Linked DNA regions of Homo sapiens: regions 1 and 2 are each linked to region 3. Evidence: fine-mapped QTL for protein levels in blood plasma. A gene starts in region 3. Each other region holds a variant in brackets. All regions are shown on one strand. Distances are between the middles of the regions. Region 1 overlaps PHYHD1 (phytanoyl-CoA dioxygenase domain containing 1). Region 2 overlaps KYAT1-SPOUT1 (KYAT1-SPOUT1 readthrough). Region 3 holds the start of KYAT1 (kynurenine aminotransferase 1).

The links. A credible set is the group of variants that fine-mapping cannot tell apart. PIP is the posterior inclusion probability: the model's chance that the variant is causal. Protein levels are from antibody-based Olink assays in UK Biobank. Linkage for the fine-mapping came from a reference panel and not from the study's own genotypes, which makes the PIPs less certain.
Region 1: its variant is the best candidate, but not a certain one, in a credible set for the plasma level of the KYAT1 protein (UK Biobank, PIP 0.74).
Region 2: its variant is the best candidate, but not a certain one, in a credible set for the plasma level of the KYAT1 protein (UK Biobank, PIP 0.57).

Annotation. Positions count from the first base shown.
Region 1 is chr9:128,928,486-128,937,282 of GRCh38, reverse strand. PHYHD1 (phytanoyl-CoA dioxygenase domain containing 1) reads right to left here. Exons shown (of 13, transcript NM_001100876.2): 5 at 3,426-3,501; 6 at 3,225-3,272; 7 at 780-835; 8 at 638-700. Among named protein-coding and RNA genes, the nearest start is that of PHYHD1, 12 kb to the right of the region's middle. RefSeq lists a silencer at 5,679-5,973. The variant G/A (reference allele first, on the strand shown) is at 5,153.
Region 2 is chr9:128,845,162-128,855,402 of GRCh38, reverse strand. KYAT1-SPOUT1 (KYAT1-SPOUT1 readthrough) reads left to right here. Exons shown (of 25, transcript NR_182311.1): 2 at 9,992-10,050. It overlaps KYAT1 (kynurenine aminotransferase 1), which reads left to right. Exons shown (of 13, transcript NM_004059.5): 2 at 9,992-10,050. The coding sequence starts at 9,998. Among named protein-coding and RNA genes, the nearest start is that of SPOUT1, 20 kb to the right of the region's middle. RefSeq lists a silencer at 10,036-10,241. The variant CTTTTT/T (reference allele first, on the strand shown) is at 5,592.
Region 3 is chr9:128,875,769-128,886,009 of GRCh38, reverse strand. KYAT1 (kynurenine aminotransferase 1) reads left to right here and starts at 4,060. Exons shown (of 13, transcript NM_004059.5): 1 at 4,060-4,113. It overlaps KYAT1-SPOUT1 (KYAT1-SPOUT1 readthrough), which reads left to right and starts at 4,060. Exons shown (of 25, transcript NR_182311.1): 1 at 4,060-4,113. LRRC8A (leucine rich repeat containing 8 VRAC subunit A) reads right to left here and starts at 3,877. Exons shown (of 4, transcript NM_019594.4): 1 at 3,760-3,877. RefSeq lists enhancers at 1-564, 3,841-3,990 and a silencer at 3,531-3,810.

The sequences.
Region 1 (8,797 bases), 52 kb before region 3:
TTTTTTTTTCTTTTTTTTTTTCTTCCTTTTTGTGGAGAATGGGGTCTCGCTATATTGCCCAGGCAGGTCTCAAACTCCTGGGTTCAAGCTACCCTCCCACCTCTGCCTCCCTGAGAGCTGGGATTACAAGCGTGAGCCACTGCGCCTGGCCAAATTTTTCTTTTTTTTGAGACGGAGCCTTGCTCTATCCCCCAGGCTAGAGTACATTGGCGTGATCTCCACTCACTGTAACCTCCACCTCCTGGGTTCAAGCAATTATCCTGCCTCAGCCTCCCGAGTAGCTGGGACTACAGGTGTGTGCCATCACGCCCGGCTAATTTTTGTATTTTTAGTAGAGATGGGGTTTCTCCATGTTGGCCAGGCTGATCTCGAACTCCTGACTTCAGGTGATCTGCCCGCTTCAGCCTCCCAAAGTGCTGGGATTACAGGCATGAGCCACCACGCCCGGCCCCTACCACCAAATTTTAACTGAGGATCAACTAAGTTCCAGGTGCTTTAGCCAGAGGAGACCGATTTTCCATGTTCTCCCACCAACATAATAATTCCAGCAACTTTTGGCCCATTGTAAGGAAGGGCTTGGTATGAGCAGTCTGCCCATTTTACAGATGGTAAACTGAGGCAAGGACAAGGAGCTCACCTTAAAGATGTACATGCTCTGCACCACCACGGGCATCTGGAGGCCCAGACTTCTGGCCAAGGTCTGGAGGGGGGCAAAGGTCATGCTGCCAGCCTGCCACACATGGCCCACCCTCCTGGCCCTCACCCCCACCTCTGCTCACCTGCACCTTGAAGGAGTGTGTGATGCTCTTGAAGACGGGGTCGTGGGCGTGCAGAGCTATGGGACAGAAGGAAGCTGTCGGCCCCATCTCAGGCCCACGTGTCCCTCCACACCCAGCTCTGGGCACCCACACTCAGGCTTACTTTGACATTCTCACTTACTTTGTAGGCATTAACCCTTCTGCTTGTTTACAACTGAGTAATGGGCTCCACAGGAGCCTTGCCCCCACCCCAGGCCCTATGCCACCCATGCCCTTATTCTTGACCTTCTGGGAAGCTCAGTCCAGCCCCGACTCCCCACCCCTCACAGACGACTAAGGGCTCCAAGGCACCAATCATGCGGAGCAATCTCGGTACCACCATTTGCTCTGTGTGGCCTCGGGTAACCATTTCTCTCCTGTAAGCCTCAGTTTCCTCTTCTGTCAAATGAGGATTAGAAGAACCTGGGAGGCAGGACTGGTGTGGGACTCGATGGGCTAATGAATGTGCAGGGACAGCCCAGGGCCTGGCATGGGATAGTCCCTCATTGTCATAAACATAAGATTGAATGCATTTAATACCACTGAGCTATGTACTTTTTATTTTTATTTATTTATTTAGTTTTGAGATGGAGTCTCACTCTGTCGCCCAGGCTGGAGTGCAGTGGCACAATCTCGGCTCACTGCAACCTCCACCTCCCTAGTTCAAGCGATTCTCCTGCCTCAGCCTCCTGAGCAGCTGGGACTACAGGCATGTGCCACCACGCCCAGCTAATTATTGTATTTTTAGTAGAAATGGTTTTTCACCATATTGGCCAGGCTGGTCTTGAACTCCTGACCTCGTGATCCACCCGCCTCGGCCTCCCAAAGTGCTGGGATTACAGGCGTGAACCACCGCGCCCGGCCAAGCTACGTACTTTAAAAGGGTTATGATGATATGGTAAATCTTTTCTTTTTTTTTTTTTTTTTGAGACAGAGTTTCGCTCTGTTGCCCAGGCTGGAGTGCAGTGGCAGTAGCTGGGACTACAGGCGCCCACAACAAGGTCCGGCTAATTTTTTGTGTTTTTAGTAGAGACAGGGTTTCACTGTGTTAGCCAGGATGGTCTCGATCTCCTGACCTCGTGATCCGCCCACCTCAGCCTCCCAAAGTGCTGGGATTACAGGCGTGAGCCACCACGCCCGGCAATGATATGGTAAATCTTACGTGTATTTTACCACAACTTGTCTACAAGCTTACCATGATATAACTTCAGGCTTAACAATAAGCATTCTAGGCCAAGTGCAGTGGCTTATGCCTATAATCCCAGCATTTTGAGAGGCCAAGGCAGGAGGATCACTTGAGCCCGGTAGTTGAAGATCAGCCTAGGCAACATAACGAGACCTCCTCTCAATTTTATTTAAAAAAATAAATAGCCTATAAAACAAATTATAATGTATGATCCTAAAGAAAAAAAGTGAGGGTTTTCTTACTTGACTTTGGGGTGTCAGAATAGGGACCCTGTCAGCAGGTCAGGTGCCCCTTAGGGTGGCTCTAGGGAGCACTGGACCCAGGAGCTCCCCCAGGCCAGGCAGTAGAGAGCCTGCACATGCCCACCTGTTAGGGGGGATCAGGTGGACCCCCTATCCCCAGTGCTGTGGCAGCAGTGTCATGATTAGCAGAGGGGCCCAAGACCAGAGGGGAGCCTGAAGCCACAAATGCCATTTACCCGACCACTAATTTACTATGGGCTTTCTTTCTTGTTTGCTTTTTTTTTTTTTTGAGACGGAGTTTCACTCTTGTTGCCCAGGCTGGAGTGCAATGGCATGATATCGGCTCACTGCAGCCTCAGCCTCTCGGGTTCAAGCTATTCTCCCGCTTCAGCCTCCCAAGTAGCTGGGATTACAGGCATGCGCAACCATATTCAGCTAATTTTGTATTTTTAGTAGAGACAGGGTTTCTCCACATTGGTCAGGCTGGTCTTGAACTCCCGACCTCAGGTGATCCACCCACCTTGGCCTCCCAAAGTCCTGGGATTACAGACGTGAACGACCACGCCCAGCCACTATGGGCTTTCATTAAAGCTCCTAAACTCTTCAGGCTTCAGTTTCCCCAGTTTCCCCATGCTTTTTCCTTTTCTTTTTTTTTTTTTTTTAACAGGGTTTCACTCTGTCTCTGTCACCCAGGCAGGCTGGAGTGCAATGGCACATCTCAGCTCACTGCAACATCCGCCTCCCAGGTTCAAGCAATTCTCCTGCCTCAGCCTCCTGAGTAGCTGGGACTACAGGTGTGCACCACTACACTCACCTAATTTTTTCTATTTTTAGTAGAGATGGGGTTTCACCATGTTGGCCAGACTGGTCTTGAACTCCTGACTTCAAGTGATCTGCCCACCTTGACTTCTCAAAGTGTTAGTTAGGATTACAAGTGTAAGCCACCACTCCCAGCCTGTTCCCCGATCTTCTTTCCTGTACCCCCAAGCCCCTGCTCACCGTGGCCAATTTTGTTGATGGATTTCTCCGGAGGGACCAGGAAATTTCCTGTGGCACAAAGAACAGATAAAGGCAGAGAACTGGTGTCCAGCCTTCCATGGGCAGCTGGCTTCAGCATGCTTCCAGCCCAGGGGGCAGATTCCCAGGTCCAGCCTACCCTCACCATGGCTCCTCCCCAGCTCTAGGGCCCCAGCTCCAAACCTTTCTCATCAAAAACGCCTTTCTCAAAGAAGAATCGAATCTTGTCACCACTGCTCAAGAAATAGTCTGTGCTGCCCTGTGGAAAGGGGACATCAGAGGACTGAGACAGCATCCTGGGGTCAGAGCTGGGCCTGGCAAAGAGGGAGGCGGATTCAGAAGCTTCCCACCCTCACAGGGTTACAGACACCCTGGGGGCTTCTCAGACTTGTCCACTGAGGCACAGACAGTGAGCCAGAACTTCAAGTGCCTGGAAGCACACCCCAAAGATGCAAACATGGAATTTCTTGGACACCTCACTATACTGTGATTCAGAACATGGATGCTAGAGTCGAATAGGGCTGGTTCCCTAGCAGCCTTGGGCCCCTGGTTTTATGTCACCAAGACTTCATTTTCTCATCTGTAAAAAAAGGAATAATAATGGCTGGGAGTAACGACTCACACCTGTAATCCCAGCATATTGAGGCAGATCACTTGAGGCCAGGAGTTCGAGACCAGCCTGGCCAACATGGTGAAACTTTGTCTCTACTAAAAATACAAAAAACAGCTGGGCGTGGTAGGCACCTGTAGTCCCAGGTACCCGGGAGGCTGAGGCAGGAGAATAACTTGAACATGGGAGGCGGAGGTTGCAGTGAGCCGAGATTGCACTATGCACTCCAGCCTGGGCGACAGAGTGAGACTCTGTCTCAAAAAAAAAAAAAAAAAAAAAAGTCTGGGTGCAGTGGCTCATGCCTGTAATCCCAGCACTTTGGGAGGCCGAGGTGGGCGGATCACGAGGTCAGGAGATCGAGACCATCCTGGCTAACATGGTGAAATCCCCGTCTCTACTAAAAAAAATACAAAAAATTAGCCGGGCATGGTGGCAGGCACCTGTAGTCCCAGCTACTCCGGAGGCTGAGACAGGAGAATGGCGTGAACCCGGGAGGCAGAGCTTGCAGTGAGCCAAGATTGGGCCACTGCACTCTGGCCTAGGCAACAGAGCAAGACTCTGTCTCAAAAAATAAATAAATAAATAAATAAATAAATAAATAAATAAATAAGGAATAATAATAGAACTGACCAACCAGGCACTGTGGCTCACACCTGTAATCCCAGCACTTTGGGAGGCTGAGGCAGGCGGATCACGAGATCAGGAGTTCAAGACCAACCTGGCAAACATAGTGAAACCCCGTCTCTACTAAAAATACAAAAAATTGCTGGGTGCAGTGGCTCACACCTGTAATCCCAGCACTTTGGGAGGCCAAGGAGGGCAGACCACCTGAGGTCAGGAGTTCAAGAGCAGCCTGACCTACGTGGAGAAACCCCATTTCTACTAAAATTACAAAATTAGCCGGGCATGGTGGCGCATGCCTGTAATCCCAGTTACTCGGGAGGCTGAGGTAGGAGAATTGCTTGAACCTGGGAGGCGGAGGTTGCGGTGAGCCAAGATCGTGCCATTGCACTCCACCCTGGGCAACAAGAGCGAAATTCCATCTCAAGAAAAAATAAAAATAAAAACAAAAGTACAAAAAATTAGCCGAGTGTGGTGGTGGGCACCTGTTGTAATCCCAACTACTCAGGAGGCTGAGGCAGGAGAATCGCTTGAACCCAGGAGGCAGAGGTTGCAGTGAGCTGAGATTGTGCCATTGCACTCCAACCCGGGTGACAGTGCGAGACTCCATCTCAAAAAAAAAAAATAATAATAATAATAACAATAATAATAATAATAATAGAACTGACTTCCCCAGGCC[G/A]GGTGCGGTGGCTCATGCCTTTAATCTCAGCACTCTGGGAGGCTGAGGTGGGCAGATCACCCGAGGTCAGGAGTTTGAGACCAGCCTGACCAATATGATGAGACCCCATCTCTACTAAAAATGCAAAAATTAGCCGGGCGTGGTAGCATGCACCTGTAATCCCAGCTACTTGGGAGGCTGAGATGGGAGAATTGCTTGAACCCAGGAGGTGGAGGTTGCAATGAGCCAAGATCGCACCATTGCACTCCAGTCTGGGCAACAAGAGCAAAACTCCATCTCAAAAAGAAAGAAAGAAAGAAAGAAAGGCCGGGCGAGGTGGCTCACGCCTGTAATCCCAGCACTTTGGGAGGCTGAGGCGGACGGATCACGAGGTCAGGAGATCGAGACCATCTTGGCTAACACGGTGAAACCCTGTCTCTACTAAACAAAATACAAAAAATTAGCCGGGTGTGGTGGCGGGCGCCTGTAGTCTCAGCTACTCCAGAGGCTGAGGCAGGAGAATGGCGTGAGCCCAGGAGGCGGAGCTTGCAGTGAGCCGAGATCGCGCCACTGCACTCCAGCTTGGGTGACAGAGCGAGACTCCGTCTCAAAAAAAAAAGAAAAAGAAAAACAAAAAACTGACCTCCTCAATTCTTGGAGGCTTCAGCCAGAGGCTGAATCTTATAGCAGTTAGGACACAGATTCTGGAGCTGAAATCCTTGGGTTTAAATCCTGGCTCTAGGATGGGTGCTGTGGCTCATGCTTGTAATCCTAGCACTTTGGGAGGCCAAGGCGGGTGGATCACCTAAGGTCAGGAGTTCGAGACAGCCTGGCCAACATGGTGAAACCACGTCTCTAATAAAAATCCAAAAATTAGCAGGACGTGGTGGCACACGCCTGTAATCCCAGCTACTCTGGAGGCTGAGGAAGGAGAATCACTTGAATCCAGGAGGTGGAGATTGCAGTGAGCTGAGATCACGCCACTGCACTCCAGCCTGCATGACAGGAGCGAAAATATATCTCAAACAAAACAAAAAAATCCTGGCTCTATTGCAGTGGTCTGGAACCAAACCTGAATTATCTCTGAGACATGCCTGTACATGTGTTATCTTACTCAGCCTCCCAAAACCCAGAGAGGTAGGGTCTACTATAATCTCCATTTTATAGAAGAAGAAATTGAGGTGCCTTTTTTTTTTTTTTTTTGAGACAGAGTCTCGCTCTGTCGCCCAGGCTGGAGTGCAGTGACCCAATCTCGGCTCACTGCAAGCTCCGCCTCCCGGGTTCACGCCATTCTTCTGCCTCAGCCTCCCGAGTAGCTGGGACTACAGGTGCCCGCCACCACACCCAGCTAATTTTTTGTATTTTTAGTAGAGATGGGGTTTCACTGTGTTAGCCAGGATGGTCTCGATCTCCTGACCTTGTGATCCCCCCGCCTCGGCCTCCCAAAGTGCTGGGGTTACAGGCGTAAGCCACTGCACCCGGCCGAGGTGCTTTTTTTGTTTGTTTTTTTCTTTTTTTTTTTGAGACGGAGGTTCACTCTTGCCCAGGCTGGAGTGCATTAGCGCGATCTTGGCTCACCTCAACCTCCATGTTGGTCAGGCTGGTCTTGAACTCCTGACCTCAGGTGATCTGCCCACCTCAGCCTCCCAAAGTGCTGGGATTACAGGCATGAGCCACCATGCCAGGGTTTGTTTTTTTTTTTTTAAAAAGACAGTGTCTCATTTTGTTGGCCAGGCTGGAGTGAATGGTGCAATGGGATCACGGCTCACTGTAGCCTTGACTTCCTGAGCTCAGGTGATCCTTCCACCTCAGCCTCCTAAGTAGCTAGAACTACAAGTTCACACCACCATGCCTAATTTTTTTTTTTTTTTTGAGACAGGGTTTCACTCTGTCCCCCAGGCTGGAGTCCAGTGGCGCAATCTTGGCTCACTGCAACCTCCATCTCCTGGGTTCAAGCTATCCTCCTGTCTCAGCCTCCCAAGTAGCCAGGATTACACACGTGCATCACCACTCTCAACTAATTTTCTTGGATTTTTGGTAGAGATGGGGTTTTGCCATGTTGCTCAGGCTGGTGTTGAACTCCTGGGCTCAAATGATCTGCCTGCCTTGGCCTCCCAAAGTGCTGGGATTACGGGTATGAGCCACCATGCCCGGCCACGACTAATTTTTTTTTTTTTTGTATTTTTTGTAGAGACAGGGTTTCACCATGTTGCCCAGGCTGGTCTCAAACTCCTGAGCTCAAGTGATTTGTCCACTGCCTTGGCCTTGCAAAGTGCTAGGATTATAGGCTTGAGCCACCATGCCTGGATGGTAAAAATATTAAAGGTAATGATGCTAAGCATATGTCAAATATTTTACTGAATTCGTTATTTCATGAGGGAACCAGTAAGATGTTACAACTGGTTCAAAGGAGAATTCCAAGAATTACACACACACGTATGTAGATACTAAGGAAACTGAAATGAATTTTTTTTTTTTTGAGATAGAATCTCGCTCTGTCACCCAGGCTGGAGTGCAGTGGCACAATCTCAGCTCACTGCAAACTCTCCCTTCAGGGTTCAGGCGATTCTCCTGCCTCAGCCACCCAAGTAGCTGGGACCGCCGGCGCCTGCCACCATGCCCAGCTAATTTTTGTATTTTTGGTAGAGACCGGGTTTCACCATGTTCCCTAGGCTAGTCTTGAACCCTTGACCTCCAGCGATCTGCCTGTTTCAGCCTCCCAAAGTGCTGGGATTACAGGTATAAGCCACCACTCCTGGCCCTTGAAATGAATTTAGAGATAGATGCAAACTGTTTTTTGTTTTGTTTTGTTTTTTTGAGACAGGGTCTTTCTTTATCACCCACCCAGACTGGAGTGCAGTGGCATGATTATAGCTCACTGCAGCCTCAACCTCCTGGCCCCAAGTGATCCTTCTGCCTCAGCCTCCCATGTAGCTGGGACCACAGGCATATACCACCATGCCCAGCTAATTTAAAAAAATTTTTTTGTAGAGACAGGTCTCACTTTGTTGACCAGGCTGTTTGCGAATTCCTGGGCTCAAGCGATCCTCCCTGCTTGGCCTCCCAAACTGCTGGGATTACAGGCATGAGCCACCACACCCAGCTGCCCAACTGTTCTATCCACAGGGCAATAATTGCATTCCCCAGGACCCAGTTCATGGTAACGTGATTGGAACAGAGTGGTACTGACCCCCTACTTGGACAAGTATCATGTGCATTATTATCAGTTTTATCCAACTTACAGTGTTGTAAAATAACTCAAACAAGGAAAGCTGGAGGTAACCCAAGAAAATGAAACAGGACGCCCACTGATCTTTTTTTTTCTCACAGTATCAAGAGTGAATATTGAGGATGTTACTGAGTGCTGGGCACCATGCCAAGCTCTTTTCTTTGCATGCATTATAAACCAAGATATATCAGTTTTTTGTTTTTGTTTTTGTTTTTTTTTGAGACAGGATTCTTGCTCTGTTGCCCAGGCTGGAGTGCAGTGGCATGATCTTGGCCCACTGCAACCTCCACTTCCTGGGTTCAAGCGATTCTCCTGTCTCAGCCTCCCAAGTAGCTGGGATTACAGGTATGCATCACCTGGCCCAGCTAATTTTTGTATTTTTAGTAGAAACAGGGTTTCACCATGTTGGCCAGGCTAGTCTCAAACTCCTGACCTCA
Region 2 (10,241 bases), 31 kb after region 3:
TCAGGAGCAGTAACAGGACTAACTAACTTTGGTTGAGGTGATGAAATCCCCTTTTCACCCCATTTCCATGGATAGGGTGATTCTAGCCTTCTATAAACCTGGTCTAGCCTTTCAGTTAAATCACTATCATAGGCCGGATTAGTGGGCCAGACAGATGGGGTCTGTGAACATGAGTGAGTCTGGCCCATACAACCATAATATAATTGGTTTTGAGGGGCCCAGTCTATAATAGTTCCAAATTTATTGTTTTGTAATACCACCACAGTATCAGCCACATATTTTTCCCAAACTAAGACTTCTGGGTCTTTTGATTCTTTGGGAATTTCCTTGAGGCAAGGTCCCCTTAGGCCTAAATTTTAATGATCTTTGATAAGAAGAGTCCTGTAAATTATTCATTTGTGACCCAAGTGACATTCCACTTACCATATGATAAGTAAATTTATTGGTGGCACTGACAGTAGATACTTCTACCAACCAATTTTGGGTTGTAGGCATTAAGCATCCTGGTGCTTTCCCCAGGCAAATAGGAGGATAATGATACCCAGTGGAAATGTTTATCATCATTCCTTCTTCTTCAGGTTGGGCAGGGCCGCGGTCATCTGTGGGTCCTGGTACCCATGCACTAATATTAACACATACTTCAATAGAATATTATCCATCCAAGTGACTGCCTGAATTAAGGGCGGGAAAGGCACATAGGCCCAGTAAGTATAATTAGCTGCAGCTGCTCCTGCAGACATAGTGAGACTTACCACCATTGATACAATCATTAAAGCTGCAAGCAGCATATTCTCTGGAGTTTGTGTTACCCTTGTGTACTTTAGGCTTTTTTCAGCTAACTGTGTCAGCTTCTTTAGCTGGGCCCAGGTCGGCGGCTTCGCTTTTTTGGTGGATGGCAACTTTTTCTGTAAGTTGTAGGTACCCAAACTGGAAGCTGATTTTCTCCTGGTGAAACACGAGCAAAACCTCTCCCCCACGTTATCACCTTCTCTATTTTTTATGTTTTATTTTTGTTGTCTTTTTACCAAATCAGTTTTTCCTCATGTGGGCTGTTCTTTTTACCAGTAAAATGTTGTTCTGCAGAAGTAGCGGTCTGATTTCTATAAATGTTAAAAAAATTTAAAGTATAGAGTGCTAGATTAAGTTGCATCTGGGGAGTGTTATATTCCTTACTGTCCTTTTCCTTTTTTTGTTTAACCAATTGAGCTTTGAGTGTTCTATTACTTCTTTCAATTATGGCCTGTCCTTGGGAATTATAAGGGATTTCTGTTGTGTGTGTAATTTTCCACTGATTTAAGAATTTTTGAAATGCTTTACTACAGTATCCTGGCCCATTATCTGTTTTAATTTTTTATGGAACTCCCATGACAGCAAAACAAGATAATAAATGTCTTTTAACATGGGAAGTATTTTCTCCTGTCTGGCAGGTTGCCCATATGAAATGTGAATAAGTATCAACTGTCACATGGACAAATGACAATTTTCCAAATGAAGGTACATGTGTGACATCCATTTGCCATAATGCATTGGGACATAAACCTCTGGGATTAACTCCTGCCTCCTGAGTGGGCACATGTAGGACTTGACACTGAGTACAATGTTGTACAACATTTTTTGCCTGTTTTCATATGATATCAAATTTATTTTTTAGTCCTGATGCATTTACATGAGTCAAGGCACGAAGTTTTTATGCTTTTATGAATGCAGATGATACTAGCAAGTCAGCTTGTTCATTTGCCTTAGTTAAAGGCCCTGGTAAATTAGTATGTGTTCGAATATGAGTAATATAAAATGGGAAATTTCTTTTTCTTACAGTTTGTTGTAACGAATTAAACAGCTGATTTAACTGATCATCCATACTATATTTGATTAGGGCTGTCTCAACATCCTTTGTAGCCTGTACTACATATGCAGAATCTGAAACAATGTTAATAGGCTGATTAAAACCTTGTAACACTGAAATGACAGCAACCAACTCTGCTCTTTGAGCTGAGTGATATTGAGTTTCAATGACTTGTTCTTTTGGCCCAGTTTAAGCCACTTTTCCATTGCTGGAACAATCAGTAAACGCCATCAGAGCATTTTCTAAAGGTTTATATCTGGTAATTTTAGGTAAAATCCAAGTAATCAATTTTAAGAACTGGAAGATTTTTGTTTTTGGGTAATGATTGTCAATAATTCCCACAAAATCAGCAAGACCAATCTGGCATGCAGCAGAATTGATAAAAGCTTGTCTAACCTGTTCCTTGTTTAAAGGAACAATGATTTTATCTGGGTCACTTCCACACAATTTTACTATATGTAGTCTTGCCTGACCAATTAATGTAGCCATTTGATCTAAGTACAATGTAAAAGTCTTAGTTGTACTGTGAGGAAGGAATGACCACTCTGCAAGATCAGTATTTTGAACAATAATGCCTGTTGGAGAATGTGCAGTAGCAAAAATCAAAAGTTGGAGTGGGGCTAAATGATCTATTCTATTTACTTGTGCTGACCGAATTTTTTCTTCAACTAATTCAATTTCTTTAGTTGCTTCTGGAGTTAATGGTTTTTTACTGTTTAAGTCTGGATCCCCTCTCAAGATAGAAAACAAATTTGACATGGCATAAGTAGGGATGCCTAGAGTTGGCCGAATCCAATTAATATGTCTTAGCAATTTTTGAAAGTCATTTAATGTTTTTTAATGTGTCTTTTCTTATTTTTATTTTTTGTGGTTTAATTTTCCTTTCCTCTACCTGCATTCCCAAATAATGGAAAGGAGTAGAGGTCTGAATCTTATCAGATGCTATTGTCAGTCCTGCGTTTGCAACATCTGTCTGCAGAAATGTGTAACAGTCAATTAATTTGTCTCTTGTTTCTGCAGCACACAAAATATCATCAACATAATGAATGACATAACAATCTGAAAACTTGTCTCTAACTGGTTGAAGAACTTGAGCTACAAAAGTCTGACAAATAGTTGGACTGAGGCAACACTTTCCACTAAAACCTGGCTGGTTCTTTATTATTTACGGCTGGTATAGTAAAAGCAAATTTTTCAAAATCCTGTTTTGCCAGAGGAATGGTAAAAAAGCAGTCCTTCAGATCAATTATAATTAAAGGCCAGTCTTTGGGGATCATGGCCAGAGAGGGCATCCCGGGTTGGAGAGCACCCATGGGTTGTATTATGGCATTAACAGCTCTTAAGTCAGTCAGCATGCGCCATCTGCCTGATTTTTTCTGAATTACAAACACAGGAGAATTCTAAAGAGAGAAAGTGGGTGAAACATGTCCTTTTTTAAATAGTTTTTTAACTATTTTATGTAGCGCCCCCAACTTTTCCTTAGAGAGTGGCCACTGTTTGACCCATACAGGACACTGCAGGGCGAGTCTGAATTGCTCCTTCACTGTAGTGAACTGTAGGTTGGGCAATAATGAGTGCCACGAGCCAAGTCGCAGTGTGCCTAGTTTCAGGCTGCCTCCCCCAGCACTCACTCGGCTGAGGAGGAGGTGGCCATTGTGGTTGTAGCCCCAATGGCCCCAATGATTCTGGACTTTTTCCTTTTAATTTTAATGTTTCAGGATATATTACCTCCTGTAATTGATTGTAGTCAACACTTTGCGTTGACTGAGCCATTACCGGCTCTGCTACATATTTACAATGTGAACTTTCCGTTCCTTTCTTGAACTCTGTCTCTGCCTCTTCTTCACAATCTATCACACAGCTTTCAGGGGCATCAGAAACTGAAATGCTATCTTCTTCTATTTGAAATGGTTCTAAAGTTGCTTTAATAATGGCCCAATCATTCCATACTGTAAGTGGGATGATTTTACCTTCCCTACTTGCTTGTTTTAATTCCTTGCCAATTTTTTCCCAATCTTTTAAATCTAAAGTTCCTTGTTCTGGAAACCATGGGCAGAATTGTTCTATTGTTTGAAATAGCGTAATTAGATTTTCTGTAGAAGCTTTAACTCCCCCTCTTCTTAAGAGAATTTTAATGAAGCTGAGATAAGAGGCATATTTACTTTCAGTTTGCCCCATTGTTACCCTGGATTCCTCCGAGCGCACAAGCATACTGCAAGGCTGACCGTGGACGTACTCGGGAATCTCTCATCAGCTGTCCTCAATACTCACGTTCTCAGCATAACTTCACCCTGGAGAAAGGCCCCATATTGGGCGTCAGATGAAGGGGTGGCCTGCCCCTCCATACCTGTGGGATATCTCGTCAGGTGGGATGAGAGACTGAGAAAAGAAATAAGACACAGAGACAAAGTGTAGAGAAACAACAGTGGGCCCAGGAGACCGGCATGCAGCATATCAAGGACCTGCACCAGTACCGGTCTCTGAGTTTCCTCACTTTTTATTGATTATTATTTTTATTATCTCAGCAAGAGGAATGCAGTAGGAGAGCAGGGTGATAATAAGGAGAAGTTCAGCAAAAAACATGAGCAAAAGAATCTGTCATAATTAAGTTCAAGGGGAGGTACTATGCCTGCATGTGCATGTAGGCCGGATTTATGTTTCTCTCCACCCAAACATCTCAGTGGAGTAAAGAATAGCAGGCAGCATTGCTGCCAATGTGTCTCGCCTCCCGCCATAGGGTGGTTTTTCTCCTATCTCAGAATTGAACAAATGTATAATCAGGTTTTATACTGAGACATTCAGTTCCCAGGGGCAGGCAGGAGACAGTGGCCTTCCTCTATCTCAACTTCATGAGGCTTTCCTCTTTTACTAATCCACCTCAGCACAGACCCTTTACAGGTGTTGGGCTGGGGGACGGTCAGGTCTTTCTCATCCCACGAGGCCATATTTCAGACTATCACATGGGGAGAAACCTCGGACAATACGCGGCTTTCCAAGGCAGAGGTCCCTGTGGCTTTCTGCAGTGCATTGTGCCCCTGGTTTATTGAGACTAGAGAATGGCGATGACTTTTACCAAGCATACTGCTTGTAAACATTTTGTTAACAAGGCATATCCTGCACAGCCCTAGATCCCTTAAACCCTGGTTCCCTACAACACATGTTTTTGTGAGCTCAAAGTTAGGGCAAAGTGGCTGGGGCAAAGTTACAAATTAACAACATCTCAGCAAAGCAATTGTTCAAGGTACAGGTCAAAATGGAATTTCTTATGTCTTCCATTTCTACATAGACACAGTAACAGTCTGATCTCTCTTTCTTTTCCCTACACTGAAGAAGGAGGATCGCTTGAAGTCAGGGGTTCAAGAACAGCCTGGGCTGGCCAGGCATGGTGGCTCATGCCTGCAATCCTAACACTGTGGGAGGCCGTCATGAGCAGAACAACTTCAGGCCAGGAGTTCAAGACCAGCCTGGCCAGTATAGCAAAACCCCATCTCTAATTAAAATACAAAAATTAGCCAGGCATGGTGGCACACACGTATAATCCCAGCTACTCAGGAGGCTGAGGCAGGAGAATCACTTGAACCCAGGAAGTCGAGGCTGCAGTGAGCTGAGAAGGCACCACTGCACTCCAGCCTGGGTAACAACGTGAGACCCTATCTCAAAAAAAAAAAAAAAAAAAGAAGAAAATAAAAAATTTATATGTGTGTATTCTGTGAGATAGAGGTCCAAATTCATTCTTTTCTTTTCTTTT[CTTTTT/T]TTTTTTTTTTGAGACAGAGTCTCACTTTGTCTCCCAGGCTGGAGTGCAGTGGCGTGATCTCGGCTCACTGCAACCTCCATCTCCCAAGTTGAAGCAATTCTCTGCCTCAGCCTCCTGAGTAGCTGGGATTACAGGTGCCAACCACCATGCCTGGCTAATTTTTTGTATTTTTAGTACACCATCTTGGTTTCACCATCTTGGCCAGGCTGGTCTTGAGCTCCTAACCTCATGATCAGCCTGCCTCGGCCTCCCAAAGTGCTGGGATTACAGGCATAAGCTGCCACGCCTGGCCCCAAATTCATTCATTTACATGTGGATATTTAGTTGTCTCAGCACCATTTGTTCATTTGTTGAAAAGATTATTATTTCCCACCCCCCACCCCCGCTTTTTTTTTGAGCCGGTGACTTGCTCTGTCACCCAGCCTGGAGTGCAGTGGTGTGATCTCGGCTCACTGCAACCTCCGCCTCCTGGGTTCCAGCGATTCTCCTGCCTCAGCCTCCTGGGTAGCTGGGACTACAGGCATGTGCCACCATGCCCTGCTAATTTTGTATTTTTCGTAGAAATGGGGTTTCACCATGTTGACCAGGCTGGTATCGAACTCCTGACCTCAGGTGATCCGTCCACCTCAGCCTCCCAAATTGCTGGAATTACAGGCATGAGCCACCATGCCTGGCCTCCCCACCTTTTTTTTTGAGACAGTCTCATTTTGTCGCTTAGGCTGGAGTACAGTGGCACGATCTTGGCTCACTGCAACCTTTGCCTCCCAGGTTCAAGCAGTTCTCCTGCCTCAGCCTCACAAGTAGCTGGGACTACAGTCATGTGCCACCACACCCAGCTAATTTTTTGTATTTTTATTAGAGATGGGGTTTCGCTGGTCTCAAACTCCTGACCTCAAATGATCCTCCCGCCTTGGCCTCCCAAAGTGTTCGTGTTACAGGCATGAGCCACACCCAGCCTCCCAATTTTTTTTTTTTTTTTTTTTTTGAGACAGAGTCTCACTCTGTCACCCAGGCTGGAGTGCAGTGAGTGGCGTGATCTCGGCTCACTGCATCCTCCACCTCCTAAGTTCAAGTGATTCTTCTGCCTCAGCCTCCCAGTAACTGGGATTACAGGTGCACACCACCATGCCTGGCTAATTTTTGTATTTTTAGTAGAGACGAGGTTTTAGCATGTTGGCCAGGCTGGTCACAAACTTCTGACCTGAAGTGATCCACTCGCCTCAGCCTCCCACAGTGCTGGGATTACAGGCGTGAGCCACCATGCCTGGCCCCCATTTGAGTTTCTTAGCATCTTATCAAATAGCAATTGTGACCATTTATTTCTGGACTGTCAGTTCTATTCAATTGACTTATATATCTATCTTTAAGCAGTATCACACTTTCTTGGTTCCTGTATGTTTGCATTAAGCTTCCAAATTGTGCAGTGTGATTTCTTCAATTTTTTTCTTCTTTTTCAGGCATTTACTTTTTTTTTTTTTTTTTTTTTTGAGACATATCTCCCTCTGTCGCCCAGGCTGGAGTGCAGTGGTGGGATCATGGCTCACTGTAGCCTTGACCTCTCCAGGATCAAGTGATTCTCCCACTTTAGCTTCCCCAGTAGCTGGGACTACAGGTGTGCACCATCACACCTGGTCAATTTTTGTATTTTTGTAGAGACGGTGTTTCAGTATGTTGCCCAGGCTGGTCTCAAACTCCTGGGCTCAAGAGATCCTCCTGCTTTGGCCTCCCAAAGTGCTGAGTTTACAGGTGTGAGACACATTGCCCTGCTTGAATTTGTTGATTGCATCTCCATGGTGTTATTTAACATGTTCTTCTGTCCCTGTATTTTAGTCATTCAACAGTGTGATCTAATTTAGGGCCACTTTTACAGCAGGAATAATTTGCAGGTGGTGTATGTGTTTCCAGAGTCAGAACATGTTTGGTTTATGCTCTTGGTGATATTCAGGGCTATCAGTGATCCTCTCCTGGATCATTTTTTAATTAGAGGTGATTTGTGTTTTGAAAGGGTCACTTGGGTTGCTGGGGGGTGTATTGTATATGAGTAACAGGGTTCTTATAAGGACGGAGTCGGATAATCATGCAACAGAGCACTTGGTGCTATTCCTGGCACGCAATGACCATATTGTTGTTGTTGTTGTTGTTGTTGTTGTTGTTATTGTTAGAGCTGTGTGTGGGGGACCCAAGTCCTGAGCTCGGAGGCATTTTCTGGCCAGGGCTGTTTCCTCCCTTCTCCCCTGCCTCTGGAAAAGTCTGCAGTGCCCCAAGGCTCTGGGAGGCATGTTCAGGACTGCAGCAGCCATCTCTGTGCACCTGGTGGGGCCCCTTCAGGGAAGGAAGGCTGGAGCCCCACTCACTTGGTTCTTGCACCAGACTGTAAGTGCCCTAACCCCAATACTCTGCCACCTGCATGGCCTGGGGCTTCTGGGGTCTGGCTCGTTCCTGGCTTCAAAGCTGTGCATGAGCCTTCTCTTTCAGGGAGCCCTCTTTAACTGCAGCCTGTATGTGGGCTTCTCCCTTGCCCCTGCTTCTCTAGTCTAGAACTTGTAGCTCTGCATCTGAATAGTCAGCTTGGGCGCTGTAGGGTGCTGCTTCCCATGATCCCCTGTGCCCATCCCAGAACCCAGTACCTGGTAGGGACTCAATAAATGTCAACTGAGCCAGGCGCGGTGGGGTTCCTGGGCCATGGAAGACCTGGCACTTACTCAAATGGTCCCAAGGCCCCTCCAGGACAGGGGGGCCTGGTGTTGAGATTACTGTGGCTGCCACCCTGACCAGGTCCTTGCCAGCTTCTCTTCTGACCCTGGGCAGGTACCTGAGCCTCTTCAAGCCTCAGTGTCCTCATCTGTTAGATGGAGACTATTGTGGCACCTCTAGTGAGAGTGCAGTGGGAACTGAGCGAGGTGGAACTGAGCAAAATCCTGAGCCAGGGTTCACTATTGACCACAGCAGGTGGCTGAGAAGAATGTTGGATCCCCAGCTCCACGGCCCACCAGCCATCTGGGACTGGCAAACCCACAGGAACGGAAGGTTCCTCAGGGACCACAAAGCCCATGTGAGGTCCCTGCTGCTGAAGGGATTCTGAGGACAGGAGGAGCCAAATTACCTATCCAGGGTCACCCAGCCAAGGTGGGTTAGGACCTGAGTTTGGTGGCTCTCAGGTCTGGCCAATTTCTTTCTTTCTTTTTTTTTTTTTTTTTTTTTTTTTGGTAGAGTCTTGCTCGTTGGGTCGGGCAGGAGTGCAGTGGCTGGCACGATCTTGGCCCACTGCAATCTCCATCTCCCAGGTTCAAGTGATTCTCAGGCCTCAGCCTCCTGAGTAGCTGGGATTACAGGCATGTGTCATGACGCCCAGATAAGTTTCTTTGTTTGTTTTTCCCAGACTGAGTTTCACTCTAATGCTCAGGCTGGAGTGCAGTGGTGTGCTCTTGCCTCACTGCAATGTCTGCCTCCCAGGTTCAAGTGATTCTTGTGCCTCAGCCTCCCAAGTAGCTGGGATAACAGGTGCGTGCTACCACGCCCAGCTAATTTTTGTATTTTTAGTAGAGATGGGGGTTTCACCATGTTGGCCAGGCTGGTCTCGAACTCCTGACCTCAGGTGATCTGCCCGCCTCAGCCTCCCAAAGTGCTGGGATTACAGGCGTGAGCCACTGTGCCCAGCCCCTGGCCAGTTTCTGCACACCAGTGGCTGAGGAGGGAGCTGGCCTGGGAGGAACACCGGGAGGGGAGGGGCGAGCCAGGAGCCAGGACCCCGGGACCCTCCGAGGAGCGGATTAGTGCCTCCCTCAGAGTTAGGACATGGCCTTGGGTCCAACAGGCCTAAGTCTGAGTGTGTGTGTTGTGTGGCCTTAAACACATCACTCCCCCTCCTGCACCCTCCAGCCTCTGTTTTCCACCTTCTGTTTTCTCATTGATAAGATAGGCCTGACCAGGTCATTCAGGGAATGAAATGGAAGTGCTTAGCAAGACCTCTGTAAGTGGAGGCTGCTGCTGTCACTGTTGCCATTATCCTCCCTCTCCGCTCCACCCACCTCCTGCTCCTCTTCTTTAACCCTCAGCCCTTCCTGAGTCAGACTTTAACCTGGCCAAGTCAGGGCTCTGTCTCAGGACGCATGGAGCCAGGGCTGGAAGTCTCCACTGGGCAGGCGCCAGGCAGCCCCTGCAGGTTGGGGAGGTGGAGGCTGCTGGAGTCAAGAGGAACCAGGTGAGGGTGTTGGAGCATAACAGGCTTGGGAGGCAGGCAGAAACCTGCCCTTCTGCAAACTCTATCTCTTCCCCCTCCTGGGAGCAGACAGGATGGCGCTGTGGCCTGAAAGCAGCTGTCCCTCCTGTGTGCAAGCTCGGACTGCTGCACCCAGACAGATTCCATCTCTGACCTTCCACTTGTTCGTCTCCAGCTCGCCATGGCCAAACAGCTGCAGGCCCGAAGGCTAGACGGGATCGACTACAACCCCTGGTGAGCCAGCTGGGCTGGGGAGGTGTGTGGGTGTCCCCTCGGGCATGGGTTGGCCATCCCTGGGTTTACAGCAACTCAGTAGTACTCCAGATGGTGGCGGTACACAGACTGCCAGATTCCAGCCATAGCTCAGGAGAGACAGGGCCCGAGGGAGTAGGCTTGGTTCAAATCTCAGCTTTCTTCTGCATGAC
Region 3 (10,241 bases):
AGGAAGCGAGAGCTGCCGTCAGCAGGCACATGTGTGACTGTCGCAGTTACCTGCCACACCGCCAGCACTTCCTGAGAGCCTGCTTGGTAGCAGGCCCTTGGCTGGGCTCTGGGGTGACAAAAGAGGTTTTTTTTGTATAGTGGTGCAATCTCGGTTCACTGCAACCTCCGCCTCCCGCATTCAAGTGATTCTCCTGCCTCAGCCTCTCGAGTAGATGGGATTTCAGGTGCGCACCACCAAGCCTGGCTAATTTTTTGTATTTTTAGTAGAGACAGCGTTTCCCCATGTTAGCCAGGCTGCTCTCAAACTCCTAACCTCCAGGGATCTGCCCGCCTCGGCCTCCCAAAGTATTGGGATTACAGGCATGAGCCACCGCGCCTGGCAGACAAAAGAGGTTCTGACAGAGCACCTCCCTCCAGAACCTGGTCTACTGAGGAGGTGCCAAGTCAGTAGCGACGGTCTGAGAGCTCAGAGCTCTGCTGCGGGGGAGCCAGGAGAAGCACTAGACCCAGACTAGTGGGGTCAGGGAAGGCTTTCTGGAGGAGGAGTTGTCTGAGTTGACTCCTAAGAGTAGGAGCTGGAAAAAGAGCATTCCAGGCAGGAGGAACAGCACATGTTTACCTGGAGGAGAGAGTACATGGCATCTGGAGAAGGCTTGCGGGCTCGGCATGGCGAGATCCAGAGCCAGAGAGGGGAAGTGGCAAGAGATGAGCCACAGTGGGGTGGCTGGGTCAGGCAGAGACCAGCCAGTGCCCAGACTCCAACTTAAACACCAAATCCACCCATCATCTCCGACAGTCAACCAGCCTCTGGTGAGCATCTACTCCATATGCGCCAGACACTGTGCAGAACTGTGCATGGGAGTGGCAGGGTAGGGAAAGCTGTGATCACTACGACACGGGTTTCGGGGAGCCAGGAGCTGGGAGAGTGGCCCAGCCACCAGAGAGAGCCAAAGGATCAGCAGGAGTTACCCAGGAAGGAGGAGGGCGGGGGTAGACAAAGACACCTGGACTGATCTAGGAGGGATGGCTGTTTTTCCATCATTTCTACCACTGGGTATTTACTATATTGACTAAGTTCCAGGCCCTGTGCTGGGAGGGCAGACATGGAAGATGGTCTCCGCCGTCATGGGAGGTAGGTCAATAACCCTGCAATTCCATACGGGGTGGTGGTGACTAGGCAGTAAAGTACCTACAGCTATATAGGCACGGAGGCCATCCAAGCCAACCTCTACCTCACTCTACCCTCCTTGTCAAGGATGGGGCACCCACTGAGGCTGGGTGGTCCAATCACCTGCCCATGGCAGAGCCAGGTCCAGAACTTGGGCCCCTGGACTCCCTGTCACTAATTATTCTAGTCCCTCCTCTTCCAGAAAGCATACCCTGACCACCCCCTACATAACCACCCAGAGCTAATTCCTTCTTCCTCTGGGCTGCCTCTGTAATATTTCTATTAATATGGTGGCCACAGTATATCAGAACTTATGTGTCTTCTGGTTTGCCTGTCCTCCCAGACTGCAGCTCTCAGGAGGCCAGGGATGTTTTCCCAGCCATCCCAGGCCCAAGACAGGCACTTTCTAAAGAATGGCTGAATGAATGAATGAATGAATGAATGAGTCAAGGCATGGAGAGACACTGTGCTGGGCTCTAAGAGCCCCACATCCATCCCACCTGAATCTCCAAGAGGTCTTGGCCCATCAGTGTGTGCCTCAGTTTCTCCATGTGAAAACCTGGAATCAGCTCTACTCTAAGACGAGGCAGTCAGGAACCAGGCTGATTTCCCTCCAACTCCTACAGGCAAGGTCCAGGCCAAGCCAGGCAGCAACCCAGGGTCCGGCCACTTCCCTGAGTTCTGACCCACGGCAGTGATCCCCAGGATTCCCTACAGTCCAGAAAGGTCATTCAAGAGTTTGCAAAGGAAACGGCTTCCTGGTGGGTGTGCCTAAGGGATGGAGAACCACCACATCTAGTCAAGTTCTGGGGGGAAGTCATGAACATTTCCTGTGCCCCCGCTCTGTTTTTTTTTTTGTTTTTTTGAGATGGAATTTTGCTCTTCTTGCCCAAGCTGGAGTGCAATGGCGCGATCTTGGCTCACTGCAACCTCTGCCTGCTGGGTTCAAGCAATTCTCCTGCCTCAGCCTCCCGAATAGCTGGGATTACGGGTGCGCAGCCCCATGCCTGGCTAATTTTTTGTATTTTTAGTAGAGACAAGGTTTCACTATGTTGGCCAGGCTGGTCTCGAACTCCTGACCTCGTGATCTGCCCGCTTCAGCCTCCCAACGTGCTGGGATTACAGGCGTGAGCCACCACGCCCGGCCCTGCACCCCCTGCTCTGTACCCTATGGTCCCTAGAACGCAGAGGGCATCAGACCCCATGCCAAAGCCCTGAGACCAGGAAAACAAGGAAGCAGAGACCAGCCACCCAGTCACTCATCCCTGGCATGTCCACAACAGCCTCCTCCAGCACAGGTCATCTGTCCTTGCCTCACTTCATGAGCCAGAGGAAGACTTGACCTTCATGGAAGCAACACCAGTGAGACTGAGCAATCAGCACTGCCCAGTCTCTCTGAACAAACTCCCACTCCCACATCCCCTCCACAGGAAGTATCAGCAACAGCCGATCTCCTCCCGCTTCTTACAGCCTGTCTGTCTGCCAGGTTGTCTGCTCCAAAGGGCAGAATACAGTTTGGCAGGGGTTAAGAGTACTACTAACAGAAGAGGTGGAAGAGGTCCTTGGGAACTTCGGGCTCCCCCAGTTCCCTTCCTCTTACCAGGTGCTCTCCCTCCACACCTCATTCTCAAAAGGCTTCCTGAGGTAGGGCAGGGGAAGAGGAGTCAGTGGAAGTGTGGCTCACCCAGGAACCGCCCACCCTTCCAGCCAAGTCTCCATCAGGAGGCGGCTACCAGACAACCCCCGACCCATCCCTCCTTCCCAAAAAAGGCAACAATCGCAACAGCTGAGAACCGGCAGACCTCGGTTCACCCCGGTCCAGATCAAGGGGAAGAAGCAGTCAGCGAAAGCAGCAGAATCATCATGAACTCCATGACCCCAGCTATGCCCCTTCAGCCTGGGAGCTCAGTTTGCTGGGTATCCAGCTCACCTAGGGCTGCACCAGGCCTGGACCTCACTGGATCTCGCCTCGCCCTCGGGCCCACCTGAATGCACAGGACTGGGACAGGGTCTGGGTTCTTAGATTCCGGACCGGTCTTCCCAAATATCCCATCCCAGAAAGGCCCCAAGAGCCTAGCCGGGGATCCTGCCCCCAAGTCAGGGCACTGCCCCCATCGGAACGATAGGAAGGAGGGGTGCAAGGGAAGAGAAGGGGACCAGGAACTCAGGAGAAGACAGCTAAGGAAATCTTTGAAAAAGAAATGGCAAGGAGAGAGCCCAGAGGTGGAACCTCTAGGAACGGGAGAGTGTGTGTGGAGGGGTGAGGATCTGGGGGGACCCAGGGGATGACAAGGGGACATGGGGGAGCCGAGGCGGAAACTCCTGGTTTCTGAAGCACAAGGAGGCACAGGGGTGCCTGGGAGGGGGCTCGCGCGCCGCGGAGCCGGCGAGAAGGTGGTGCCCCGGAGACTCCGGGCACTGGGGAGCCCAGAGGTAGGCCGAACACCGCGGGAGGTCCCCAGGGGGCCGGCCCGGAGACAGAGCCCCAGATGCCCCGGGCGCCCCGGGCCGGGCAGCTGGCCGAGGGCGTGTGTAAGTGGGTTTCGAGAGGTGACAGCTCGCGCCCCTTTCCCCACCCCGTCCACTCACCTGGGCTCGCCGCGCCCGGCCGCCCGGCAGGCAGCCCCAGGCCCCGGCCGCTCCGTCCCGCCGCCGGCCGCAGCGCTGCTCCGGCGCCTCCTTTTGTTTGTCCCTCACTGCACCACTCAGCCTCCTCCGCCCCGGAAGTGACGTCACCGCCGGGCGCGAACGCGGCGGCCAGGGCGTCGCCATCTTTATGAGGAGAATTCTAGCGGCGCTTTCTCCCGCTCTCGCCTCCGCGCTAGCGCCCTGCTGCTTCGGGGCGGAAGTAGCGGAGCCGGGCTCGGCCCCCTTAAAGGGACAGGGACTGCTGCAACCTACGGGGTGTACTTGGGAACGAGGGGTGAAGCGGCCCAGGTGAGGGTGAGTAGCTGTGTCGGAGCGCCACTTCCCCAAGGTCAGGTGCCGAGGCTGGGAGGGTCGGCTAACGGTTCCGAGCTTGGTTGTGCTAGAGTGCTTAATGAGTTTGATGCTACTAAGTATAACGGAGTGGCTGCACAGAATGATTGAGCCGCCCGCGGGAATCAACTGCGCGTGCTGCTCGCTGATTCTCGCTCGGACACTGGGGCTGGTCCTGTCTGCACCCAAATCCCCCTCCCACGACCGCGCCGGTGGAGATGATACCCGAGACAACAGAATTCTGGACAGATCTGGGGTTGGAATTGGGTCCCCAGACTCCAACTCTGCAGCTCCATAAATCCCGCTGGGTCCTCGCAAATTCCCTGGCTGATAACAGTACCGGCAACCAAATTAAAAAATAATCCATACAGTGGAATACTGTGCAGCCATTAAGACGAACAATGTTTAATATGCACTAATGTAGGGTGACTTCTAAGATACCTTAGGTTAAAAAAGGAAACAACAGTAAAAACAGCGTTGGGCCGGTTGCGGTGGCTCACGTCTGTAATCCCAGCACTTTGGGAGGCCGAGGCGGGCGGATCACGAGGTCAGGAGATCGAGACCATCCTGGCTAACTTGGTGAAACCTCATCTCTACTAAAAATACAAAAAAATCAGCCGGGCGTGGTGGTGGGCGCCTGTAGTCCCAGCTACTCTGGAGGCTGAGGCAGGAGAATGGCATGAACTCGGGAGGTGGAGCTTGCAGTGAGCCGAGATCGCGCCGCTGCACTCCAGCCTGGGCGACAGAGCGAGACTCCGTCTAAAAAAAGAAAAAACAGCGTTGATGGGTGCTATCCATCTTTGCGTAGAAGGACGCCTGAGGGTGGGCGTATCTGCGGGTGTGCGCGCCAGCTGTCTGATAAGATGCACAAGAAGTTGTTAATTGCGGTTGTCTCCGACAGAATTGGGGTCTTGGGTACCTGGGCCAGGGCGAGAAATTTACTACCATGTGCACAGATAGATAATTAAAAATAAGATGATGAAGATAGTCGTGGCTCCCATCCATCACGTGTTAAGCCAATGCCTAGTTTCACTTCTGTTGGGAGGTCTTATTTTTCCCTTTTAATAGAAGAGAAAAGAACCTTAGAGAGGTTAGGAAACTTAGCAATATCATAGCCAGGGCCGGGCGCGGTGGTTCACACCTGTAATCCCAGCACTTTGGGAGGCTGAGGCGGGCGGATCACGAGGTCAGTAGATCGAGACCATCCTGGCTAACACGGTGAAACCCCGTCTCTACTAAAAATACAAAAAAATTAGCCGGGTGTGGTGGCGAGCGCCTGTGGTCCCAGCTACTCGGGAGGCTGAGGCAGGAGAATGGCATGAACCTGGGAGGCAGAGCTTGCAGTGAGCTGAGATTGGGCCACTGCACTTCAGCCTGGGCAACAGAGCAAGACTCCGTCTAAAAAAAAAAAAAAATCATAGCCAGGAAGTGGAGAAGCTGGAATTTGAACCCTGGGAGATTTACACTAATGCCCATGATCTAGCTTATCCCTCGCCACTGAGATGCTTTTTCTGTTGTCAGTCACGCAACACCCGTCTTGGGGCCTGGCACACAACAGGCATCCAGTAACTATTTATTGACATGATGTGTGGTGTGAAAAGCAAACGTTGAAGGTCAGAGCCCAGGCTTAAAGTCCAGGGCTTGGGCACCTCTTTCCAACCTGTGGACTGTGGGCCTGCCAGGTACTCCGTGGGCCTCCATGTCCCCGCCTGTAAAATGAACAACCAGAACCACAGTTGTAGACAGTGAATGTTCCCACGTATTATACTTTGTATTTTACACGCAGATAAGTCTCATTTTACAGATAAGTGAGGCACAGAGAGATTAAGAAAGTTGCCAGAAGGGGGTTCCTACAGGTCTCCCTCCCTCCCTAGGAAGGCTGCTGGGCTCCCAGGCCTCTCCCTTAGCTTCCCAGGATCATCTGTGCTAATGCCTGGGGGACCTACTCTGTGCTGGGTGAGCTGCCAGAGGCTGAGGATCTGGTGGAGAACAGGTCAAGCACATAGTTCCTGTCCTTGGAGTTGAGCGCCCCCGTGCTGAGTACTTTGAGGGCGGAAGCCCAGGTCTTGGGACCACCTGGGAGGGGACATGTGGCTTAGCCTGGGTGGAGTCAGAAGGGGCTTCTCCAAGGAAGGGACTTTCAATGTGACTGGAAACTAGGATGTCCAGAAGGAGAAATGATGAGGCTGGAGACTCAAGGAGAGATGGGCTCCTACCCTGGACTTGGCCTTGGTGTCCACTAAGAAACTGAGGGTGACCAACAGGATTGGAGAATATACAAGTTAGACCCATTCAGTCTGGCTTCAGCAGGAATCTTTCCTCCCGGAGAATGCCTCCATTAGGTGCCAACCACCAGAACGCCACACTAACCTCTCCAAGCTCCAAAGAGTAGGGCGCCTGATTTTATAATCCAGGTGGGGGCGATAAAGGAATGCAGGAGCCTTCACAGCCATGAGGCAGTCACTGTAACTCCTGCCAGAACAGACCTGGGGCCACATCCCACTCCTGGATGGCACTGCCAGTTCCCTGCATAATTCCTTTTTTTTTTTTTGAGACGGAGTCTCACTCTGTCGCCCAGGCTGGAGTGCAGTGGTGCAATCTCGGCTCACTGCAAGCTCCACCTCCCGGGTTCACTCCATTCTCCTGCCTCAGCCTCCCAAGTAGCTGGGACTACAGGCACCCGCCACCACGCCTGGCTAATTTTTTGTATTTTTAGTAGAGACGGGGTTTCACCGTGTTAGCCAGGATGGTCTCTATCTCCTGACCTTGTGATCCGCCCACCTCGGCCTCCCAAAGTGCTGGGATTACAGGCGTGAGCCACCGCGCCCGGCCTCCCGGCATAATTTTTAAAATGCTCATCCTATGCCCTCATTCCCCAGCTTGCAGCTGGGGGCCTCCTGGTGCTTTTCTGGGACTTCGAGTAAGTCATTTCCCCTCTCTAAGCCTCAGTTTCCCCACCTGTAAAGCTGATGCCACCTCCTCCAAGGCTCCCGCGAGGCTATCTGCCTATCTGTTGTGTGTTCCTTTAATGTATGGGAGTGAGATTGTGGTTTTTGAATCTGGGTCCTGTGCCAGGAGGAATAAGTGGTGAGATACCTACTGTTTGTGTCACTCAGGTCTTCCACCAACCCCTCCAGCCTGTAAACCTGCCGTCTGGACTCCAGAAGTCATTTCTCTCTCCTCTGCCAATTCCTAAGCCCAGGGGGACTGTGTCTGAGTGACGCAATTGTTAGATCTCCTCAGACAGGCTGTTCTCTCCAGGAAAACATTGGCTCAACAAATTGTCACCAAACATTTGTCTTCAGGGAATTCTGTTTTTTTTCTATCAAAAAAAATTTGGATTCATTATATAATAAGAGATTTTTCATTTTGCTTGGTTACTAATTTTATGGAAAGCCTGGTAGGTTTAAATGTTAATAGCTTGTTGACTGGGTGTGGTGGTTCATGCCTATAATCCCAGTAATTTGGAAGGCTGAGGTGGGACTATCGCTTGAGCTCAGGAGTTCGAGACCAACCTGGGCAACGTGGTAAAACCCCATCTCTATCAAAAATACAAAAATTAGCTGGGTGTGGTGGCACGTGCCTGTGGTCCCAGCTACTCTGGAGGCTGAGGTACAAGAATCGCTTGAAACTGGGAGGCAGAGGTTGCAGTGAGCCGAGATTGTGCCACTGCACTCCAGCCTGGGCGATAGAGCAAGACTGTCTCAAAAAAAAAAAAAAGTTAATAGCTTGTTGTCATTGACAAGTGGCTGTGAGCCAGGACCCACAGTATATTCTCTGTGGATTCTTGTCACCTTCATTGTACAGATGAGGAAGCTGAGCCCCCAAGAGGCTGCGGCCTGGCATGACCAAGGTCCCATAGCTAGTTTATGGTGGAGCTGGGACTATTTGATCCAAGTCCAAGGTTTGGTCTTCTGTGGTTATTCATGCACTAGACTGGTCTTCCTGGGCATGGTATCCCCAGTTCTGTACCCTTTCTCTAGAGGTGCCACGATGTGTGTTGTCTCAGTAACTGGGAGTCTCCTGGCATTTTAAGCCCAGGGATGCTAAACATCCTTCAAGGCTCCAGATAGCTCTCCCCAGTGAAGAACTGACTCATCTCAAATTCTAAGTGTGCCCCTATTGAGAAGCTCCAAAACCGAATGTCATAATTGACTTGAGTGATGTGACGTGGGGCCACCCTGGGAAGGCATGGTCACCTCGCCTGCCCTTGTAAGCAGCCATGCAAGGTGAAGTTGGACAAGACATGGCTCCTGTCCCCAAGGGGCTGGTGGTCTCCTGTCAGCCCTAGCACCCGCCTGAGAGGAGATTTCACGGGACAGAATTTGGACTTTGGAAATAGGCAAACCAGGGTTTGAATCACAGCTGGAGCTCTCTAGGCTGAGTGAGTTTTCCTTGTTCTCCTTTTGAGCAAAATAGAGTAAATAATACCATCCTAATCAGCTGTGATGAGGATTAGAGAATTTAGCATGGGGTTGGGGGAGAGGGTCAGGCACAGGTAGGTGCTTTCTGAGTTCAGCAAAGGGCCTGGGTGGACACAGAAGCTTCAGAGAGGAGGTACAGGTGGGGCTAGGCCCTGCTAGGGATTTTGGATTGGAGGGTATGCCAGGCAGGGGAAACAGCTTGAGTGAAGATGGGCAACATTTATTCAAAAGCAAAGGGTGGCTGGGCACAGTGGTTCACACCTGTAATTCCAGCAATTTGGGAGGTCAAGGCAGGCAGATCACCAGAGGCCAGAAGTTCAAGACCAGCCTGGCCAACATGGTGAAACCCCATCTCTACAAAAATACAAAAATTAGCCGAGCATGATGGTGGGTGCCTGTAATCCCAGCTACTCGGGAGGCTGAGGTGGGAGAATCACTTGAACCCGGGAGGCAGAGGTTGCAGTGAGCCGAGATCGTGCCATTACACTCCAGCCTGGGTGAAAGAGTGAGACTCCATCTCAAAAAAATAAAAATAAAAATAAATTAGCTGGGCGTGGTGGCGTGCACCTGTAATCCCGGCTACTTGGGAGGCTGAGGCAGGAGAATCACTTGAACCCGGCAGGTGGGGGTTGCAGTGAGCCAAGATTGTGCCACTGCACTCCAGCCTGGGTGACAGAGTGAAGAGAGAGGCTCTATCTCAAGAAAAAAAAAAAAAAAAGGCCGGGTGCCGTGGCTCATGCCTGTAATCTCAGCACTTTGGGAGGCCGAGGCAGGCGGATCACGAGGTCAGGAGATTGAGACCATCCTGGCTAACATGGTGAAACCCTGTCTCTACTAAAAATACAAAAAAAATTAGCAGGGCGTGGTGGCGGGCGCCTGTAGTCCCAGCTACTCGGGAGGCTGAGGCAGGAGAGTGGCGTGAACCCGGGAGGTGGAGCTTCCAGTTAGCTGAGATCACGCCACTGCACTCCAGCCTGGGCGACAGAGCCAGACTCTGTCTCAAAAACAGAAAAAAAAAAAAAAAAAAGAACAAAGGATGACTGGGTGTGGTGTCTCATGCCTATAATCCAAGCTGTAATCCCAGGACTTTAGGAGGCCAAGACCAGAGGATCACTTGAGCCCAGGAGTTCAAGACCAGCCTGGGTAACATAGGGAGACCCTGTCTCTATTTTTTTTTTTTTTTAAAAGCAAAGAATTTGAGCTGGGGGTTGGGGCATGCACTTATAGTCCCAGATACTCAGGCGGCTGAGGCAGGAGGATCACTTGAGCTCAGGAGTTCAAGGCTCCTAGGTGACAAAGCGAGACCCTATCTCTAAAATAAAAAAAGAGTAAAGGGAGGGAAGGTGGAGGCTGCCAAGCCTGGATTCCAGCCGGCTCCAAACGCCAGGCTGAGGAGGCTTTGGACTTTGTCCAGTGTCACCACAGGCTTCTGGGCAGAGCTGGTCCAATGGGGGTTGGGGGACAGTGGCATAGCTGACATCAGCCCCTGGGTTATTGACATCAGCCCCTGGAATGCATCAGTGATGCATTCCACGGGCCCAGGGGTCATCCACTGCCTTCGGGTCAAGCAAATGGCCAGTAGCTGCCCAGGCTGATAGAGGTGTGTGTTGGAGGGGGGCACAGGCCACTGGCCCTCGGCCCCTGGCCTGGCAGCAGGGAGGCCTCAGA